2 separate regions of the Homo sapiens genome follow, and region 1 is linked to region 2. The links come from fine-mapping of genetic effects on gene expression. Tissue or cell type: pancreas. Region 2 holds a variant in brackets; the other region holds the start of a gene. All regions are shown on one strand. Distances are between the middles of the regions.

Region 1 (2,679 bases), 170 kb after region 2:
ATCATATATATCTCTGGCCTAAAGGAAGCCAAGGTCTCTGCAGTGTCAGATCGTCAGATCCTCCTCCTGGGGAGGCCATTCTTTTTGCGAAGTCTCCAGTCCCATTACAAGTGAGTTGCCGGGGACTTCATGTAGGGGGAACAAGAGCTAGCCCACAGATGAAAACCCAGGCAAGCCCTCTGCTTTTGCACAGTGAACGAACGTGCCCACAGGCTTCTCAGCATTGAATTTGAACGAGCCAATGGTATCCCAATCATTGAAACAGGAAGCCAGATAAACAGCATGTTATCAAGGGGGGATCCAGCTCTTCCCTTAAGCCGGCGCCAGCTGCGCCCTGTGACTATCCTAACAAAGTCCCATTGACTCACCAGCTGATTTTCCTGTGTTCGGCTCCAGGGGACAAGGAACCCTCTCTGCCGGGTGGACGTCACCCCTACACACCGCCCCCGCCACCCGCCACTCGCGTCCTCTCCAGTTCCTGCCTCCCCTCTGCCCGCTGCAAACTTAGCTGCTTCTTTATCCTATGACCAGTTTTTATCGGCTCTGGGGATTAGCAGGGACCAGAGCCCAAGCCTCGGGAGCGCTCAGGTGAGCTCCCCGTGATCACCCAATTTCTGCGTTCTCCTCTCTCCCCTCTCCTCCGGGACCACTTTCTCCGCTCCCAGACGCACTGGGCGGGCGCCAGAGAGGACGGCCTCCGGGAGATTGGCGGGAGGGCGCTTCCCGGCGCATCCCGGGGGTGCGGGGAACGTTTTCTGGAACGGCCCGCGAGGTCACCTGCCCCAGCTGTTCCTCTGGCTCCTGCTGGGATGGGAGGAGTTAACTCTTGCTTCAACGAAAGGCAGAGGTGCGGGTAGGGTGTGTGCTTGCCGTGTGGGTGCGAGTATAAGAACGCAGCACCTGGTGTCTCATGATAAGATCTCAACGCACTTTAAATTGTGGGTATTTCACAACAAGGAAACTGAGGCTCAGAGGGACTGAAGTTAGGCAGCCCCCCCGGAGAGTCAACTCTAGAATCAAACGCGCAGTCAGTCCCATAGGGGTCGAAAGGGCACACACCTTCCCGGGAAGCCGCGAGCATCTTGGTTGTTATTTATTCCAGCGCCTCTCCCGAGCCCAGCCCACAGCCTCCCTCGGGCACCAACCTCCCCTACCCCGAGACTTGGTCTCGGCCTCGCAGGACCTGCCAGCCAAGCCTCGCAAAACGGGAAGCGCCAGACCCTCAGCGCCGCGACCGCGCGACCGCCCCGCGCCGGCCACTCACCGGAGCGCCTGCCCGCCCGGGCTCCGGGTCCGCGCCGCAGCCGCGCAGAGTCGCGCATCCCCAAGGGCAGCGCGGGTGCGGGGTCCGCTTCTCGCGAGCACAAAGTTTCCCGGGGCTCCCCAGGCCGCCTCGGCCCCTCGCACCAGGCTTGGCGTCCGCCGCGCACTCCAGCCTCGGGCCCCGCACTAGGGCAGCCGCCGGCCCCGGCCCCACAATGAGGAGGGAGGCGGCATCCTGAACAAAGTGCCGTCCCCTCGGGAACGGCGGCCGGGGCGGAGCCTCGTGACCCGCTGCCCCAGGCACACGCCGGCTGCCTCCACGGCGGGCCCAGGAGGGGAGTGCCTGGCGGCCGGGGGGCGGGCAGGAGGAGAGAATCCGTCCGATCGCCCTGGCTTTCCTCCCCCTGCACTGTGCCAGTTTAACCCGCAGAGGGGCGGAGGCATGGGTCCCTTCCAGACTTTGTCATTGGAAAGCTATTCCCGTAACCCTTTGCTGCCTTCGCCTTCCCGTCCCGCCTCCCAGGCTGGCCGCAGAAAGGCGGCTGCTCGGTGGCGGACCCGCGAGCTGGCAGGGCAGGAAGCCTTTGCACAATTGAGCCTTTCCTTTGCCCGGGGACCCGCCACCGCCACTTCCAGGCCGGGTTTCCTCCCTCCCCCACATGTCGTCCGGGTACCGCTCGCTGGTTCAGCCGCAGTTCTTTAGGAGAAGGGGACAGATGGATGGGCCAGCCTCTCCACCCGACTTCTGACCCCGGGCACCCACCTCCTTTCTTTCTCCACCCCACTGAACTGTCATGCTGTCTGAGCTGTCTTAGAGGAGGGGGAGGCCCCGCAAGTGCCCCGCAAATAGTAGGTGCTCAGTAAAATAAGTGACTTCTCCCCACCTTCCAGACAGCCGATGCCCCTCCTCCTTCTTCCAGGGACTTGGGAGTGGGAGGAGGGGGAAGAAGAGGAGAGAGGAAATGACAGGACCTGAGGAGAGTGAATGGGAGGAAGGCCCTCAGCCAGAACCTACTGCAGAAGCAGTGCAAGCCCCCTGCCTCCTGGCTTGGGGACTTCCAGGGTCTGCAGGAAGAAGGCAGAAGGAAGCCAGATGACCTGAGCTTTGAAGCAGGCTTTGGAAAGGGAGTAGCTGTGGCCAAGGACCCAGCAGATTCCCCTGCTCCTGCCAACAAATAAGAGGACTGATCTATTCCCAGGGCCATGGGGTTGCAAGTTGGAGGACTGATGGATAGAAAGCAAAACTGCCTACTCCCTGGGAGGTCTCACAGCTCTTTGCCAGCAAAATCAGTGTGAGCAGAGTCAGGATGAGAGCCCTTGAGTCCTCCCTGAACGCCCCACACAGTCAGTAAGGCCACAGTGGCTTTGAATTTGGAGAGATGAGACACCAGACAATGGACAAGCAGTGACATTCAA
Region 2 (2,679 bases):
AGGCAGAAGCCAGAGGCCCTAGACGCTCCCCCTAAACCAGTCAGCATTATGCAAAAGGCTTGATTGAAGCCTCCCCTTTCCCACTAGAAGCAGAAAACCAATAGCGCCTGCCTAGGGTCAAGCTGTCCGGCTTAACGGAGGGACTGGGGGCTGGCTGCTCTGAGTCAGTGGCACCAGGAGGCTGGAGCTGCTACTTCTCTCCTACTCCTGTGAGTGAGTCATTTGGGGTGTGGCCCTCTCAGCAACTAAGCACTTTCTGGTGTCTTTGGCATGAGGCTGGTGGGTGACTTGGTGCTGAGAGATGTTCCAACAATTTCCTTGGATGGGGGAAGGCAGATGTCCAAGATTTCATCCGCTGGGTCCTAAACTGATAAGCCAAGCTCTGCCAGATCCCTGCTTCACTTGGGCTCCTGCTGGGGGCTTGGGGCTATGAGGGATGGCAGTAAGGGACAGATGTAAGGGGGTCCTGGAGCCCCCACCATCCACCTTTTTCCAGGACTTCCTTGGTCACCTCCCTTTCAGTAGTCAGGGTTCTGCTGGCCTGAGCAGAGGTAATCCCCAGAGAGTTTTGATTTATCTTACCATTTAAAATACTCGAGATGTCTGGGAGTAAAGGGCTGAGTGTCCAAGATGCGGGCATGGGCTGGGGATAGGGGGAGGAGTAGTACAAGGAAGGAGAAGGAGAAGGGTCATCTAAGCAGGAAGAACTACAGCCAACGGCTGAAAGCTACTTAAGACTAAGTGCAGTTCCACATCAGAGTTGCTGCAATCCCACAATGCACCGGGGTGACTGAAAGGTAGTGAGTTGGCCGGGCGCGGTGGCTCACGCCTGTAATCCCAGCACTTTGGGAGGCCAAGGCGTGTGGATCACTTGAGGCCAGGAGTTTGAGACTGGCCTGGCCAACATGGTGAAACCCCATCTCTACTAAAAATACAAAAATTAGCTGGGCGTGATGGCACACAGCTGTAATCCCAGCTACTCGGGAGGCTGAGGCAGTGGGCGACAGAATGAGACTCGGTCTTTAAAAATAATAACAAAATATTTTTAAAAAGCCTATGTTAAAAATAAAAAAAGAAAGGTAATGAGTTCTTTGTCATTGGTGGTATGTAAATATGTCCATGGGTGTGGTCCCATCCTCAGAATCCCAAATGGCCACACCCTGGGCTAAAGAAAGTCCTTTTCCACTGCCCCTGTGTCCCAACTTTGCTCTTAATTTTCCAGCCCCAGGAGTTGGAGAGGAATCTACTTCCAGTCTAACTGGGGAGGCTTCCTAGCCCTCACACAGCCTTCCTGCCCCACACCCCCCATGATTTCCCAATCTGGCTGTCTGTTCTGCCTCCCGCTGTCCCCAGAGCTTAGCCCAGCCCTCTGCCCCACTTGGAGCTGACAGCATGAGCTCATCTGGGCAGTCCAAGGAGCCAGCAAGGGAAATTCTGAGTCACAGCAGAGCCTGTGGCCAGGACTTTGCTCCAGAGAGAGGTGCC[G/T]TGGGAAGGCTGAGTGCCCCATGCAGCTGGAGGCTATGAGGTCTCTGCAGGGAGTGGGCTAGGGGGACACACCTAACAGGGCATGGAGCTGGGTGACACTGTGTGGGCCCTGTTGAGCACTCAAGCCTCCCTCAGTGGCTCGTAGAAGAGGCCAGGGGGCACCTAACTGACACAAGAGTGAAAAGACCCAGGTGTTGAGAAGGGAATTGATTCTAGACCCCTAGTTTAATGGAGACTTAGGAACAGGAAGAGAGCATTTAGTAAACCTTCTCTTGACAGATTGAGGAGACAGAGGTCTAATGAAGGAGACTGACTATCAAAGATCACACATTGAGCTGTGTAATGGCTTCCACTTCCTGGCTCCTAAGCTAGTGATTTTCAAGCTGATTTGCTGAAATGAAATGAAATGTTCAGGCACAAGCAGACAGAAGACAAAGCCAAGCTTCTCTTGTTGAGATAAATGGATTTCCTCCTCCTTCTGCAGTGGCTCCACGCATCAGGCCACCTGGCTGACCTGGCAGAGGTGTGGAGGGACCCGGGGGCCCTGCCCTCCAGAATGGGGTGGAGAGCCAGGAAGGCAGAGGGCATGACCCTCTCTGCAGCTCGAGCTTACCTGTGAGTCACCTGGGACCCTCGCAGGCTGGACATGGTCTCTTCCAGGTTCTGCCGGAGATCCAGGACATTCTGCACTGTCCTCTTTCTCTGGGACTCTGGGTCTGGTAGGGAGAGAAGGAAGAGCTGGGTGAGTGAAGAGAACTTAATGCTGGGATCCTGGGGGTCAGGAAGTGGAGATTGACAGTGTCCCCAGGAGGCTAGTCCCTGGGCCATGATAGTCACCTTCCTCCTCCCTTTCCCAAAGACAACCAACAGAATGGGCCCTCTCAAAGGCCCTGGACATGTGCCATTGAGCCCTCTGAACCCCAGATCCTGGCAGGGGGTACAGGCATGGCTTTCTGTGTCTGTGCACTCCTTTCAGAGCCCCCAAGGAACTGCCTCTACCTCTGGCTTTGTTTTGGGGAGGCCCTGCTTCTCATAGCAGAGGTCCTGGGCAAGATTTCTCGTGGTTGAGATGAGCTGGAACATCTGCCTGAAACCCCCTATCCAGGGTTGTGCTGGTAAATGTTTAACAACTGGCTTTCGGAGGAAGGGGACACCGATGTGTGGTGTTTGCCAATTTCCCTGGTATAAAGCCTC

Which allele goes with the higher level. Alleles are on the strand shown, and positions count from the first base shown. SD is a standard deviation of normalised expression in the study named.
As copies of T replace G in region 2, the expression in pancreas of the gene that starts at base 1,480 in region 1 goes down (moderate effect, 0.50 SD a copy in GTEx).

The links. PIP is the estimated chance that this variant, and not a neighbour inherited with it, causes the effect.
Region 1: NAV1 starts here. The variant in region 2 is fine-mapped to the expression of NAV1 in pancreas (GTEx, PIP above 0.99).

The regions. Positions count from the first base shown.
Region 1 is chr1:201,537,928-201,540,606 of GRCh38, reverse strand. It overlaps NAV1 (neuron navigator 1), which reads right to left and starts at 1,480. Exons shown (of 34, transcript NM_001389617.1): 1 at 1,265-1,480. LOC124904484 (a long non-coding RNA gene) reads left to right here and starts at 462. Exons shown (of 2, transcript XR_007066793.1): 1 at 462-588.
Region 2 is chr1:201,712,339-201,715,017 of GRCh38, reverse strand. It overlaps NAV1 (neuron navigator 1), which reads right to left. Exons shown (of 34, transcript NM_001389617.1): 6 at 2,099-2,201. The region is part of intron 2 of IPO9-AS1 (IPO9 antisense RNA 1); the gene reads left to right. Among named protein-coding and RNA genes, the nearest start is that of MIR5191, 5.8 kb to the left of the region's middle. RefSeq lists enhancers at 1,263-1,557, 1,401-2,089. The variant G/T (reference allele first, on the strand shown) is at 1,486.